Linked DNA regions of Homo sapiens: regions 2, 3 and 4 are each reported to be linked to region 1. Evidence: microRNA targets listed by miRTarBase, many of them from high-throughput screens and not tested one by one. Region 1 holds a microRNA gene; each other region holds the end of a gene's coding sequence.
The links. Region 1 holds the annotated microRNA hsa-miR-1915-3p (CCCCAGGGCGACGCGGCGGG, at 2,532-2,551, opposite strand). A microRNA usually pairs through its seed, bases 2 to 8, with sites in the 3' UTR of a target mRNA and lowers its output. Matches are read on the target gene's strand: a 7mer-m8 pairs with bases 2 to 8, a 7mer-A1 pairs with bases 2 to 7 and ends in A, and an 8mer does both.

Region 1 (3,590 bases):
CTGGGTGATGTGCCCAGCAACTTCTGCTTTTTCCCCTGGGGAAAACTGTGACATTCGAAAGGTGTCTGCAAGTGTTTCTTCTGGTTGGCCTGGAAGTTTCCCGAGTCCCTGGACTGGCGACCCAAACTCCTACACTTCCTGCCCGGTGCTGGGAAGAAACCCAGATCAGCAGACAAATCAACCACACCCTGAGCCCCAACATCGAGCTCCAACATGTGCCTTTCCCGCCGAACGAGAAAGCGCGGACCCCTTGCAAGCAGCATATAGCCTCGGCGTGACCCGTGGAGAGGCGGGACCCCAGTGGAGAGAGAAGCACGGAGAAGCCTGGGAAGGAGCTTGGTAAGAGGGGCACAGTCCAGGCTGCCCCATGCGCGCTGGGGTTGTCGCCGCGCCTCCTGCGCGCCCCAGTGCCCCCAGAATCTCCAAGAAAGCAATCGTGAGCGCGGATCAGTTTCTGTCTTTCCCAGAAAGCGGGCTTTTTATTGAGGGGAAACTTAGCTGGGAAAAGTCAGCTCGTACGTTTGTTTTGGTTTTTCGTCTATTTGCTTCCCAATTTAAAAGTGGCCGCCTAGGCGACAGGCCTGCGGTTTTCACAGTGTAAAACGGATCAGAGGGAAAGCTCCAGCCCCTCTCGACTTTCGCTTGCGGTTTGCAACCCCTGGGGTGGGTCTGACCCCGCGCGGCACTTGCCCAGGCGAGCTTCCCTCGTCGCGGCCCGACCCGCGCGCGGACTCGGCTTCCCCAGGTCAGGACCCACTAGGTGGGCCGCTCGGCCCCAAGCCTGGCAGGGCGGAGCCTAGGCCGCGCGCCCCGGGGTTGGAGGTTCCCACGGAGCCGGGAAACTGCGCGCCCCAGGTCCGCAGGCCGCCTCCCTTCCCTCGCGCCCTCGCACCCGCCCTCTGCTCTGCCGCTCCCGGTCCTGGGTGTGCGGGAGTCCCGGGGGTCCCTCTCCTGGACGCAGAGGAGGAATTTGGAGCAAAAGGAAGGGAATTTACTGCGGATGGCACCGGAACCTGAATTGACTTGTGCGTTTCCTGCTCTGGGCACGTAGGTTTCCCCTAGGAATCTGGAGTTCGCTGAGGACACTTAATTCCAAGAGATGATGGGTTCACATAAACATACCATTTAGTTAAGAAAAATATTTAAAATAAAGAAAAAAGAAAAACTGAACTTCGATCTTCTTCTCCACGTTCCCTGGTGTCACCAAATAAACAAAGCATTCGGACGAGAGTGGGCTGCTGGGGGCTCGGGAGGTGCGCGAGACAAGGTTACCCTGCGGGTCCGCCACTGCCCCCGGCCTCCAGCACTGCACTGCCCACGAGTTTGCGGGGTGTGAGCGCCGAAGGAGAACCCCGGACCGCCCAGTCTCAGCCTAAAAACTTGGATCCAAGAGTCCTACGGTTGTGGATGTGCCAGTCCTCCGCGACCCTTTCCTGCTGGCCTTCTGCTTTTTATAAACGAAAATAAAAGTTTGATTTAGGCTTAAAGAAATGTCATTCTGGTCGTTCCTCCCTGAAGCGGGACTTACTCAACCTCATATACTCGCCCGGAATTTTCAATCTCGCCTGTCGAAATCGCTAGCTGCGCATCCGCGGAAGAAGTCCTGGATGAGAGGTAGGGTGAAGGGATCAAGCAGATAGCAGCAGGCATCAGCACACTCCGGCCGTTCCGGACGGTCAGGCCCGCCGCTACAGGGAGAAGTGCGGCGGATGGAGCCAGGGCTGCGGGTTGCGCGCGGGCTGGGAACCCGGTGGTGCCACCTTAAGAGTCGGGTCCGCGCAGCGGCTGCGGAGGCGCCCGGCACCTGCAGGGGGCGCTGCTGCCCCGTGGTTTCTCCCGCGCCGCCGCGTGCAGCGGGCCTGGCAGCTCCGGGGCCCCGGTCCCCGGAGGGGGTGGGGACGCTGGGGGAGGAAGGGAGCGAAGTGCAGCCGTTAGGTAACGAACCCGAACCCTCCCGGATTCAGAAGCGGCCTCAGTGAGGCGTTTGCTGGAGGGAGCTTTCCATCATTCGGCCGCGAGAGGAAACGTGGGGAGGCGCCCTCCCCTGCCCCCACCGCCTGCCTTCCTGCCTCCCTCCACCTCCGCTCCCCGACCCCGACCGTGCTTCCCAGACCCTTTGTTCTCGAGGTTGGGAACGGCTGGGTGGGGGTTCCCCGGGGAAGAGGTCCCCCGCGCCGCTCGGAGGGGAAGGGACTGTCGCCTGCCCCGCACCCCAGCCCTCCCCAGTGCCGTCCCCCTTTCCCCCGGCCCCTTCCATCGCGTCCACGCGCTTCCGTTCTCACTCGGACTCCCCCAACTCCCGAGCTCCGGCTCCCCAGCCTGCACGGTCTGCAAGCCCGCCTCCCTTCCCACTTCCCCGCCACCTCTGAGGTCCCCGGGAAGAGGGGAGGAGAGGGAGACGTGTGGGGGAGGAGAAACCACAGAGCCTTCTCGGCGCGGAGCATTCCCAGGGACCCTTCCAGGCCCCGACCCCTGGGACCCGCTGCAGAGGCAGGGCTTTCCCGGCGCCGCCGCAGGTCGCTAGGGCCGCCCCCGCCGCGTCGCCCTGGGGCCCACGGGTGCACGGCCCGGGCAGCAAGGCAAGGTGCGGCCTCTCAGCGCCAGGACCCGAGACCCCCAGCTGGAGAGAAGGGGACACCGTGGTCCGCGCCCTGGGGAGGCTAATTGCACACGAACGCCCCCCTCTTCCCCGCCCCCCACCGTACCCTCTGCAGCGCCACCCGCGTCGCCTCTCCGCCGTGCGCCACCCTGAGGGCTCCCGCGATTGCATCTTCTTGAGCACAGTTACCAATGCGTTCAGCTTCGTTTCTTACTCGGATGGAGACATCGCGGAGGGAAGCGAGGGGACAGGGATGCGGTAGTAGGGGAAAGGTGGGGCGGGAAACCGAGCAGAGAGGTGGGAGACTTGGCTGAGGCAATGGCACCAGGCAGGGCCGCCCGGAGTCCCGAGTCCAGGTCCGCGAGGCAGGCCCCGGTGCAGCCGCGCCCCGGCCGAACCCTACATGTCCTCTGTACTGTGGACACGAGTCCGCGGAGCGCCAGTCACACCCCCGCACCCCTGCAAGCTCCCGCCGTAGAGGGGGCTCGGCACCATCCTGGTCACAAAGTACGTGCCCCCACCCCCCACCCCCAGGTGAAGAGGACGCAGCCCGGCGCCGTCAGCTCCAGGCTGCCTGGAGCCCCCTCCGGCCTCTCGGCGCGACCCTGGTCCTCAATGGCTCGTCGCGAGCTGCGCTAGCTGCTCTCTCGGCAGCGGGTTCCCCAGGACACACCCAGTCCCCACCCCCCGAGAGCTGGCGGCCAGCTCAGGATGCCAGGCGGCCAGGCGGGCGCCCTGCCAAATTCCGCGTTCCTCTCCAGGAGACGGGGAGTTGCGTCCCAGGCTCGGGAAAGCCCGCAGTTCGGGCTTGGGACTCGCTTACAAAGCCCCCCAAGGCGCCAGGGACGCCTCTGCAGGTTGAATTCCTGCTCCGTATCACTTCAATTTTAATTAATCTTTTAAAACACCGCTGTCACGTCGCTTGCAGAAAATTAATCAAACTTGAATCCTTGTTGCATAGCAAGAATTTCGATCCGAGTCTTTTAAAAAG
Region 2 (3,590 bases), not on the chromosome of region 1:
CTCCACCTCCTGGGTTCAAGCGATTCTCCTGTCTCAGCCTCCCGAGTAGCGGGATTACAGGTGCATGCCACCACGCTCGACTAATTTTTTTTTTTTTTTTTGTATTTTTAGTAGAGACAGGGTTTTATCACATTGGTCAGGCTGGTCTCGAACTCCTGACCTCCAGTGATCCGCCCGCCTTGGCCTCCCAAAGTGCTGGGATTACAGGCGTGAGCCACCATGCCTGGCTTTTTTTTTTTTTTTTTTTTTTGAGACAGTCTCGCTCTGTAGCCCAGGCTAGAGTGCAGTGGTGTGATCTTGGCTCACTGCAAACTCCACCTCCCGGGTTCAAGTGATTCTCCTGCCTCAGCCTTCCAAGTAGCTGGGATTACAGGCACATACCACCATGCCTGGCTAATTTTTGTATTTTTAGTAGAAACAGGGTTTCACCATGTTGGCCAGGCTGGTCTTTAACTCCTGACCTCAGGTGATCCGCCCACCTTGGCCTCCCAGAGTGTTGGGATTACAGGCGTGAGCCACTGCACTCGGTCTGAAATTATTCTTGATGGGTACAAATATAGCCATTTCTGGAGAAACACAAGCTGGTCTCTTAGAAGACAAGTGGTTGCAGATTATTAAAATGAGAGGTGGAACCCAGCAATCCCACACAGGTGGTGGAGCTGTGACGTGGACCACCTTCTCAAGACCTCAGCTTCTCCTCCTCCATCACAAACAACACTGTCAGGCTTCTCACGATTTTTGGCTTGAGGGAAATACAGACACATCAGATAGAATTCTGCATAATTCCCTGGGATTTGATCCTGGCTGGACTTATTGGCTGCATGACCTTGGGCAAATGATTTATCATCAGTCTTCATTTCCTCCTATAAATGGACAGTGTCGCTTGGTGGATAAGCAATCACATGTGAAAATGGCAACACAGAACCAGCATACAGCAACTCGGTCCTGCCCTGAACCCCAGTGAATGGCTTGAAAGAAATAACACCAGCAATCAGGTAACAATGAGACATATGCAGCTTTATTTAATAATCTGTAAAAAGTCATACTCTGGCAGAGTGATGCATTCCTTATCTCAGCAGAAAGCAAACAGTCTGTCTGAAAAGCCCCTTCCCAAGATTTGGAACTGTGTAACCCTGAGCTTACATCTCAATGCTCCCAAGAGCTGGGCTCTTGCTATGTGGTAGTTGGTCTCCACAATTCTCTCACCCTCCAGCAATACTCTCTGTCTGGCTGTGACTCCCTCACCTAACAGTAGACATGAGGCTGAAAACAACTTTACCTGGACAGGGCTACCCCTACAGATTGGCCCTTTCTCTCCTACAAAAGGGAGTTCATAGGATTAACAATCTTTCTAATGGCTGGGAGCAATGACTCATGCCTGTAATCCCAGCACTTTGGGAGGCTGAGGCAGGTGGATCACCTGAGGTCAGGAGTTTGAGACCAGCCTGGCCAACATGGTGAAACTCCATCTCTACTAAAAATACATAACTTAGCTGGGTATGGTGGCAGGTGCCTGTAGTCTCAGCTACTCGGGAGGCTGAGGCAGGAGAATCGCTTGAACCCAGGGGGCAGAGGTTGCAGTGAGCCAAGTTTGCGCCATTGCACTCCAGCCTGGGTAACAGCGAGACTCTGTCTCAAAAAAAAAAAAAGACTCTGAGAAATGGGTTCTGTATCAATTTAATTTGGCTTCCATTACATCTACTGAAATCAAGGCTATACTTGTTAAACATGATACTGTGTTAATGGCTGTTCCTCTCCCCCCACCCATTTCTCCCCCATCTACATGCTTTTTAGGCCAAACCTCTCCCCTTTCTGGGAACTGAGGAATGGAGACACACTCTCTGTCACAGACCTAAGAGGCACTTCTTGTGGATATGTGGATGTCTGGTATCAGATACTGCAGCGACAGCAGTTTTGCTCTTCAGAGCAGAGGCCTGGCATTTTGTTTCCACCTTCCTGTGCTAAGAGAGTCCAGTAATTAAACCACATTCACTCCTTGGAAAAAACTCTATGTTGTATCAGAACCTCAGCGATGGTTCATGGGCTTCCAGCAGAATATATTCCTCCCTTTTATTTATAGAAGAGTATACAGAAATTCATTTGGACAGAAGGAGCCTCTCTATGTAACAGGCACCCTTCTGCTACTGGTCACAATCAATCAATGGTCCAGACGGCAATTATGATTTTCCACATTCCTCAAAGCTGCTCTCTCCTGAAATCACTTTGCAAATTTTGTTGACCAATTTGCAAACAAAAGAGAATGCAGTGGCCTACCCAACCTAGAAATCTGTTCTGCCTAATTCCCTTAAAAACACCATTGAGAATGCAAAATAAGTCCCTTTTTTGTTTTTTGCAGAAGCACTACAAGAAAGCGTGTCTAAAACCACAGAACTATGCACACACAAACACAGACACGCGTGCTCGCACACACAGAGTCGGGATCAAAGAATCTTATCTGATACATAGTTGGGGGAGCACGGGAAAAAGCTGGCAAGAGAGGATATGGAGAGATCTGATCAGCTAAAGATGTTGGAATGTTACAGTATGGCATGGAAGTGGTTCTTGGGCTATACAAAAAAGGGGGTGGGCAGGCAGAGAGAATGATAAATCCAGGCTACTAGAGAGAGGTTCAGTGGCCATGCATGAGTTAAAGATAGTAGAGGCCAGTTTACTGGATGAAATGTTATATTATGGAGTGGTCATTTGAAGGATGGACTTGCAATGGTCCAGGGGAGGAGCATCTGCTTAGCAGGACACCTCCATGGTCTGGTGTCTGTCCAGGACATCAGGGGACTCACAGGATTCTTGAGTTCCATCTGACTGATTGCTGGTGACAGACCGGCTGAAGGGACTTTCTCCAGAGCCGAGGCTACTCGAGGTTGAGTGGGTTCGTGATCGGGCGAGCCGAGTCATGCTGGCAGATGGTACTGTAACAGAGAACCAAGGGGACTAGAAGATGAAGCCCCGGTTAAGCCCAGCTAACCTAGGAGTCTCATCAAAGTCTTTATGTTTAGCTTTTCCGACTCATTTACCATGACACCCAGGACAAGATATAGCCATCCCCATTTTGTATCATTTGCTCTAGGTGAGTGGCGATATGTGAGGCCACTTTAATCCTTTAGATCTGGTTGGAATCTCAGCTGATTGTAGTCACCGCAGAACAAGGGGAAACCCTAAATCCAGAGTATAGCCTCTTAACTATGCCCACACCATTCAGACAGTGACAGAATGGAGGCTTTGGGAACCCAAACAGGTAACCAAAACCTACAGTGCATGCAAGACTAAACCAAAAGAAAAGAAAGACACACACACAAGTATGAAGGTGTTTCACAAACACAGTGCAAGCCCGATACAACGAGACTACCATCCGTGTCCACAGGCTACCTTGCTACCAGGGAGGAGATTTGTAGGATGGTGCAGGTGAAGGGGAGGGCAGATTGGCTTGGAGCTGACCTCAACACAGGGATGAGGTACAGGTTGCCAGGGACAGAGAAGCAGGTGTTTAACTCAGACTCCTGTTCTGCCACTGCTTGACTCTAAGGTCCTTCCAGCTTGGCTGGGACTGGGCCTTACCTGGCATAGCCTCCCTG
Region 3 (3,495 bases), not on the chromosome of region 1:
CGGGCACCGCCTGAGGTCACAGCTGCTGCCGGCCCGGCACCTCCCACGGCCCCTGAGCCCGCCGGTGCCTCCTCCGAGCCCGAGGCTGGGGACTGGCGCCCCGAGATGTCACCCTGCTCCAATGTGGTCGTCACCGATGTCACCAGCAACCTCCTGACGGTCACAATCAAGGAATTCTGCAACCCTGAGGATTTCGAGAAGGTGGCTGCTGGGGTAGCAGGCGCCGCTGGGGGCGGTGGCAGCATTGGGGCGAGCAAGTGAGGGGGCTCCACCAAGGAGGGGGGCTTGGGGGGGCCCTCCTGCCCGAAGTCATACTCTTGCTCCCACCCCACCCTTGCCCCCAGCCCTCTCTCCCTGTGCTTTGCTTGTCTCAAATGGCTCGGTGTTGACCCAGGGATGGGGCTGGGTAGTTGGGGTCCCAGAAAGCCGGGGGTAGGGGCCACCCTGGAATGGGGCAGGGGAAGGGCACACCCCCTGCCCATGCATGGTAGCCCACTGGGTGGTTTCTGGAAAGCCCTAGAAACTAGGGTTCCTCTGCCCCTTCCACATCCCACCTGTCTCTCTAGCTTGCTTCCTGCTCTCCTGTGCGGCGTCTGATTTCTCGGTGCTAACCTGGCAGCTGTGGGGCCCTTAGGAGCCCCCCACCGAGGGTGGACACAGTCCCTTTCCTTCCTGCAGATGCCTAGGCAGGAGGAGGGCTTCCTGCCTGTTTGGCAAAGTCCCAGGCAGAGGCCAAGGATGAGGCCTGACTCGGCTCCTCCCTCCACATCAGCCAGGGCATCAGAAGTTGGGCCAGGGCGGGGTCTTCCCTGCTCGATTTTGGACGAGGCCTAAGTAGACCCCCTATGCCCTGCCCCAGCCCTGGCTCTTTCCTAACCCCCTCAACGGTGGGAGGAACTGGCAGAGGGTGCGCCTGGCCACAGCCTCCCCGCATCTAAAGGCCCCTTCAGTTCTTGACCAAAGGTGCTACGAGAACCTGCCGTGGAAACTTCCAGTTGTGCGTCTGCCCCACTCGCTGTGTTTGTCCGTGGGTTCATACATGCATTGGGTGCTAGGCCCCAGGCTGCCGGGTGGCACCCTTTACAGTTCCTTTGAACAGGGGCATTGAAGGCCTGGACTGCCTCTCGCCTCAGTAGGCCTGGGGACCAGGCTTGGGTCTGGAGGTTTGCTGTGGAAGTCACCAGGCCTCCCCTCCTGGCCCAGGTGTGCTGGGGGCACCGTGCCCCCCACCCCCCTGCCCTCCTCAGGGTGGTCAGCCCAACCTGTCGGACCTTCACTTCACATCATGGTGGGGACCGAGATAGAGAGGGAGACCCCATTCCAAGCTCCCTCTTCCTCCGGGTGTTTGGGGAGGATGCTGAAGAATCCATTCCCGAGGGCCTCCCGGCTTGTCCCAGCCCCTCTTTTGCTTCTGACCACGGAGGCTTTCTCACAGCCCAGCCTGCCTGAAGCAAAGGAGGCTCCCGTGTCCTGGGCAGCTTCTGTTTCCCTCTGCTGCCTGGGAGCTGAGGCACCCGTGCCAGTGGCAGAGGCCACAGCCCCAGCCTTAGGCCAGGCCCTGGGAGGGCAGGCAGGCAAAGGGGAGACCAGAGGGTCTGTGTTCTCCAGGAGAATGAGGGTGTTGGTCCCAGAATTGGGACCGGGGCCCCGCTGGCCAGCCCTGGGCCACTTCCCGGGTCTCCATTGTGCGTGGGTGGCGTGTTCCAGGCGTGGCTGGAGCTGGCTTCCTGGCTGTGCTGCCATGGGCCCCTCCCTCAGAAGCACGTTGGCAGGAGGCCGATCAGAACCCTAGCGCCTTTGGTCCTAAGAATGGGAGGCTGCCTTCCTTCCCAATCTCCCTGCCAGGGCCCACAGCGTGGCCCTAGCCCTCCCCTCCCCGGGATGTAGAACGGGGACCCTCGCAGGGTTGGGGCGGGGGCTGATACTCCTCGGCCCCTCCCTACCCTGCCCTGTGTGTTGGCTTTGTGGCCGTCCAAGTGCCAATTGGCTTTTCGCCCAAATAAGGGCTGGTATTTCTCCTCTGTCCTTGGAGGTGATTTCCCCCTGACCCCCTCCCCCAGGTGAGTGACCACCTGGGTGCCAGTTACAGGTGTTTCCAGAGACCATAGAAATGTGTTTTCCTGAGAGTTCGTGTCATTCGTGACTTTTTTGTAAAGAAGTTGTGTTTTCAGAGGTGATTTTATGACAGGAAAGTGAAAGAATTAGTTTTGCAAAAAAACAAAAACAAAAAAAGAGGAAAAAAAAAAGAAATAGAAAAAAATATTGTGGGATTCCTATGGGGGGGTGGCGGGGGAGAAAGAGCTATTTAAGAAAAAATAGTAACGCAGTGATTGCACAGGTGAGGTGGCAATGTCAGGATGGGGCGGAGGCCTGGGCCCAGCTGGCAGGTCCCCTGGCATCGCAGGCACTGTGGAGAGGGCCTGGACCCAGATCTCCACACCCGTGCTTGCTCAAAGGGAAGGACAACAGCGGGCCCCCGGGAGCTAACCCAAGCTGCAGGTCCCGGCAAGCTGAGGTTTGGGAGGGTGGGGGTTGTCACTGGTGATTTTCTCCAGGGGGCTGGTGAGTGGGCAGTTTGGTTTCTTGCCCCCTTCTGTTCCTTTCCCAGTTGTTGGGCCATCTGGTCCCCACCACCGCCACCCTATGGGGGAGACCTCCCTCCCCACGGGTCACCCTAAAGCCCACAACCTCTCTGAGCCTCCCTGGCCTGAAAGGGGATGCAGGCTTCAGGAGGCAAGAAGCTGGGCCCCTGGGGGTGGCTGGGGAGAGGGAATGCATTTCCCTTGCCACAGGTGGTCTGCTTCTGCTGGCCTGAGCTCCAAGTGGAGCAGCCCGGGCCAGCCTTGGTGCATGAAGAGGCACCAGGCACACCGCCTTGAGGTGGGCAGTGCCCATGGGGGCCCGAGTGGATGGGACCGAGGGTGAGTGGAGCCTCCTTCCTCCCCTCTCTAGTACCCCCGCCTCCCACACACTTGCACGGATCGGCCTCCCTTGGGAGATCAGCCTCCATGGGCCCCTCGTCCACCCTTGCTGCTTTCCATTTGCCTAATTACCAAGCAGAAGTTGCAATCTGGTTTGCTTTATTTTTGTATGTGAAATAACCCCCAAAGCCCAATCTCCTCCTACGTTCAATATTGGTTGGGGCATCCGTCATCTCCCCTTAAGTGCGCCCCCTCCCCACCCAAGTATCATAGGAAACCGGTGAGGTCTGGTGTCTCTGGTTTGAGACGGTAAGTTGGGACCCATCCCTGTCTGGGTGCCCACTCTGACCTTTAGTTTGCCCTTCTGTGAAATGGGTGTATTGGGTAGCAAGCCCTCTTCAGAAAGCGCTGCTGGTGTCAGAGCAGCTGCCCAGTACCAGGTGGGGGGTCAAGGTTGCTGGTACTGGGGCCCCCAGCTGCCCACAACCCCTCTTTGTTCTCACCCTGCAAAGGGGTCAAGGTCAAAATGAGCCTCATCCTTCCTATGATCTGGGAAGAGGTGATGATCAAGTCC
Region 4 (3,590 bases), not on the chromosome of region 1:
AAAAAATTAGTCAGGCGTGGTGGCACAGGTCTGTAGTAGCAGCTGCTCAGGAGGCTGAGGTGGGAGAATTGCTTGAGCCCAGGAGTTCTAGGCTGCAGGGACCTATGATCACACCACTGCACTCCAGCCTGAGCAACAGAAAGACCCAGTCTGAAAAAGCTAGACAAATACTAGGAAAAAATAGAAAATTTTACAGTTTTACAATGATGTTGAGCACTTAAAAATGTATTTGGTGAGTATTTAAAATGTTCTTATTAAGTGTATGTATTTTGGCCGGGCGTGGTGGCCCACCCCTGTAATCCCAGCACTTTGGGAGGCTAAGGTGGGTGGATCACAAGGTCAAGAGATGGAGACCATCTGGCGAACATGGTGAAACCCTGTCTCTACTAAATATACAAAAATTAGCTGGGCGTGGTGGCGCACACCTGTAGTCCCAGCTACTTGGGAGGTTGAGGCAGGAGAATCACTTGAACCCGGGAGGCGGAGGTTGCAGTGAGCCGAGATCACGCCACTGCACTCCAGCCTGGGAGAAAGAGCGAGACTCTGTCTCAAAAAAAAAAGAAAAAAATAAGTATATGCATTTCTTCTGAGATTCCTTTTCATGTTACCATTTTTTTCCTACGGCGTTGTCTTTTTCTGATTCAATTACTGAAGCTTTATATAGATTAGTGTTAACTCTTGTTTTGTTAAATATGCTGCAGGTATTTCCTCCCAGAATGCATTTGGCTTTTAATTTTGCTTATGGTTTCTTTAGCTCTACAAAAAGAATGTTGACTTCATGCATTTAAATCTGCCAGTATTTTCCTTTGTGGCTTCTGGGTTTTGTGCTAGACTTGGAAAGTTCCGGGGGTCCTTTACTGCTGGTCTGTGGGTGCTGCAGGTCCTGCCTTGCCCTGCCCAGAGCACGTTCCTCTTCCCTTCCTGTGGGTCAAGGTAGCCCCCAGGCCAGTTCTGAAGCCAGTGAGGCTGGACTGGTCCTGACCTCTTCCCGCCTGTGTGCGAAGCTCTTCCGTCTTCCGTCTCGGGGTGAAGGTGGGGTGAACTGTGACAGAATCGCACGCTGGGGCTTGACATCTAGATGACGCGTCCTTGCCTCCTTCCAGAAATGCCTTTGGTGCTGCAGTGGCTCTGCTGAGAGGACCTTATGACCCTGGTGTCGGGCATGTGTGGCCAGTACCCTGGGACACTCTGAGACCCCCCTCCCACACCCTTGGGGCTGGCAGCATCGAATGGGTGGCCAGACTGAGAGTTGCCCAGGGCCGTGTGTGTAGCTGGAGGCCTGCAGCCTGCTGCCGGGGGTGAGAATGTGTTTGGGACTGAGTTTGGGATACTATTTGGGCCTGGTTTGGAACTTGTTCGGGTCTCGCCCCTTCTGGAGTTGATACCAGGGACTTTTGGGCCTCTGTTTGGAGCCAGGATGAGGAGTTTCAGCCGAGCTCTGAGCAGGGCCTGGCGTTGAGGCCTGCAGGAGGTTAGGGCCTCCTGGTCAGGCACAGGGTCCCCTGGTGCTCAGCTCCCCCTTGGCCCTGATCTGGGACCTTTGCTGAGTGCTGCGGCTGCCTGCGCTGGGTGACCTCTGGAGAAGGCCTCAGGACCAAGCTGGGTCCACTCGCTGGGGTCAGGTGGGGTGGGTCCGGCCCTCACTCTTCCCTAGGCCTATTGGGTGACCCAGGCAGTCCATGCCCCTCTGGACTCTCTGCTCAGTCATTCAGCGCTCTTTCTGCCCCTCTTAGGCCCCAGGCACTGCCATCAGTGTCCCCATCATCCACCAGTAGCAGGGGTCCCGGCCCTGCCTGCCCTGCGTACACAGGGACATGGAAAGCTGTGGCCCCCATGCTGTTGGTCCTGGGGCTGAACTCGCCCTCCACCTGCCTGGGGCTGGGAAACCCCTCATTCCCACCTCCAACCCTGAGCTGCTGGGACGCCTGCCTCATCACTGTTGGAGCCTCCCTGTTCTTCTGGAACCCGGAGCTTTAGTCCTGAGGGCTGTGTGGCCTGACCTCTGCCCCCCAAGAGGCCTGGAACCCTCCACGGGATTGGCTGTGGTGATTCCCATGGTCCTCCCTTTCCCACAAGCCCTGAGAAGGCCATGAGGCCCATTCCCTCCGTCCCCTGTCCCCTGCTGGTCTCAGCTGAGCACAGAGCCCACTTACTAGGGACTCTGGTCCCTAGAGGCTTCAGGGACCATATGGCCGGAGGACACCCAGTCCTTCCCTGGGCCAGGGTGGGAGGAGCAGGGCAGTAACTGGAGATGGCAGGAGAAGGTGGGAGAGGGTTTCAGGCCCGGGGTCCCCTTACTTCACCCCAGCCACAGACACACAGACCAGAAGCAGTGCTCAGTCCTCTATTGGAGATTCTGCCCCCTCTGGGACAGATGTCCACGCTGCCCGCGACTCCTGAGCACACTCCCATGGCGGGTGGCGTGCTCTGGGTGGGTGTGCGGCAGTGGCCGGTCAGGGTGTAGGGAAGGGGACTGAGAGGGGACCTTGGTGAGCTTGCATTTGTGTGGGGATACACGTGAAGGGGTGTCTGATCCCAGGACTCAGGGCCTCTTCCTCCTGGGGGGCACACAGAGCCCCTTCCCTTCCTCCTCGGGGAACAGCCCCGGAATGGGGCCTTCCCTTGGTGCCTCTAGGTCCTGCCCTCCAGCCCATGTCCCCAGAAGGTGGTCTTTCCTTGGAGGGGTCAGAGACTATAGCCCAGGGCTCTGGGGTCACTGTGGGAACATCTGCCTCAGCTCGGCACGCACTTCTCCTGGCCTGTTTCTTCCACTGGGAACTGGGACCCTAACCCCTCAAAGGGGGATCCCTGAGCGAGGGTCATGGGCAGGGAGCTGGTATGGACGGGTGTGTGCGGGGAGGGGTGACTGGCGGGGGCTGGGGTGTCAGGGGGCTGGGGTGGCCTAGTCGTCTTTATCCTTGGCGCCATGTTTGAGGATGCGGGTGAACTCCACGTAGTTGAAGTTGCCTTTCTTATCAATGGGTGCCTCCCGGTACATCTCGTCCACTTCCTCATCTGTGAAGCGGTCACCCATGGTGGTGAGCAGCTCCCGGAGGTGGTCCTCATGGATGAAACCTGCGGGCAGGGGCAGGGTGGGTGAGAGCAGGAACTTGGGCTGAGACATACACAGCAGCCCCATCCCTCAGCCCCCTGGCAGCTCTTGCAGACCTAGAGGGGCTGGGAAGATACAATCTTAGTCTCTGGTCAGTCTGAGGAATGAGGACGTGGCAGGAGGGGTGTGGGGGTGCACGTGAAGGGGTGTCGGATCCCACGTGAAGGGGTGCCAGGGTCCTGAGGGGAGGAGTTGTGCAGTGGGACTGTCTCCGAGGTGTCACTTGGGGAACTTGAGGCTGTGCACACAGATGGTGTTGGGTGTGCCCTGTTTTAAGCGTGAGCTCTGGAGTTCCACTGCCTGAGTTGCAGTGCTGATTCCCATTCTCCCTAGCTATGTGACTTTGGGCAAGGTCCTTAACCTCCGTGTGCCTGTTTAATCTAGAAAACAGGGATGAACGTATGCCATTGCAGTGAGGGACCGTGAAGGTAGTCAGGCCCGTGCGGGCCCATGGCCATGTTACCATGGCCATCATCAC

Region 2: miRTarBase lists NDRG3 as a target of hsa-miR-1915-3p. Seed matches in the 3' UTR shown: 7mer-m8 at 1,561-1,567.
Region 3: miRTarBase lists CBX6 as a target of hsa-miR-1915-3p. Seed matches in the 3' UTR shown: 7mer-A1 at 1,498-1,504, 8mer at 1,557-1,564, 7mer-m8 at 1,659-1,665 and 7mer-m8 at 2,748-2,754.
Region 4: the mRNA of MYL9 is a reported target of hsa-miR-1915-3p. Seed matches in the 3' UTR shown: 7mer-m8 at 2,699-2,705, 7mer-A1 at 2,534-2,540 and 7mer-m8 at 1,253-1,259.

The regions. Positions count from the first base shown.
Region 1 is chr10:21,494,045-21,497,634 of GRCh38, forward strand. MIR1915 (microRNA 1915) reads right to left here and starts at 2,597; the gene lies at 2,518-2,597. It overlaps MIR1915HG (MIR1915 host gene), which reads right to left and starts at 3,216. Exons shown (of 2, transcript NR_160800.1): 1 at 2,706-3,216; 2 at 1-1,901. RefSeq lists an enhancer at 479-1,272 and silencers at 784-883, 1,697-2,136, 2,187-2,236, 2,447-2,696.
Region 2 is chr20:36,650,775-36,654,364 of GRCh38, forward strand. NDRG3 (NDRG family member 3) reads right to left here. Exons shown (of 16, transcript NM_032013.4): 16 at 997-2,927. The coding sequence ends at 2,746. Among named protein-coding and RNA genes, the nearest start is that of SLA2, 6.4 kb to the left of the region's middle.
Region 3 is chr22:38,862,975-38,866,469 of GRCh38, reverse strand. CBX6 (chromobox 6) reads left to right here. Exons shown (of 5, transcript NM_014292.5): 5 at 1-3,495. The coding sequence ends at 261. Among named protein-coding and RNA genes, the nearest start is that of CBX6, 7.5 kb to the left of the region's middle. RefSeq lists enhancers at 1-542, 661-1,538, 1,539-2,418.
Region 4 is chr20:36,548,562-36,552,151 of GRCh38, reverse strand. MYL9 (myosin light chain 9) reads right to left here. Exons shown (of 4, transcript NM_006097.5): 4 at 705-3,075. The coding sequence ends at 2,903. All of the region lies in intron 2 of DLGAP4-AS1 (DLGAP4 antisense RNA 1), which reads left to right. Among named protein-coding and RNA genes, the nearest start is that of MYL9, 8.8 kb to the right of the region's middle.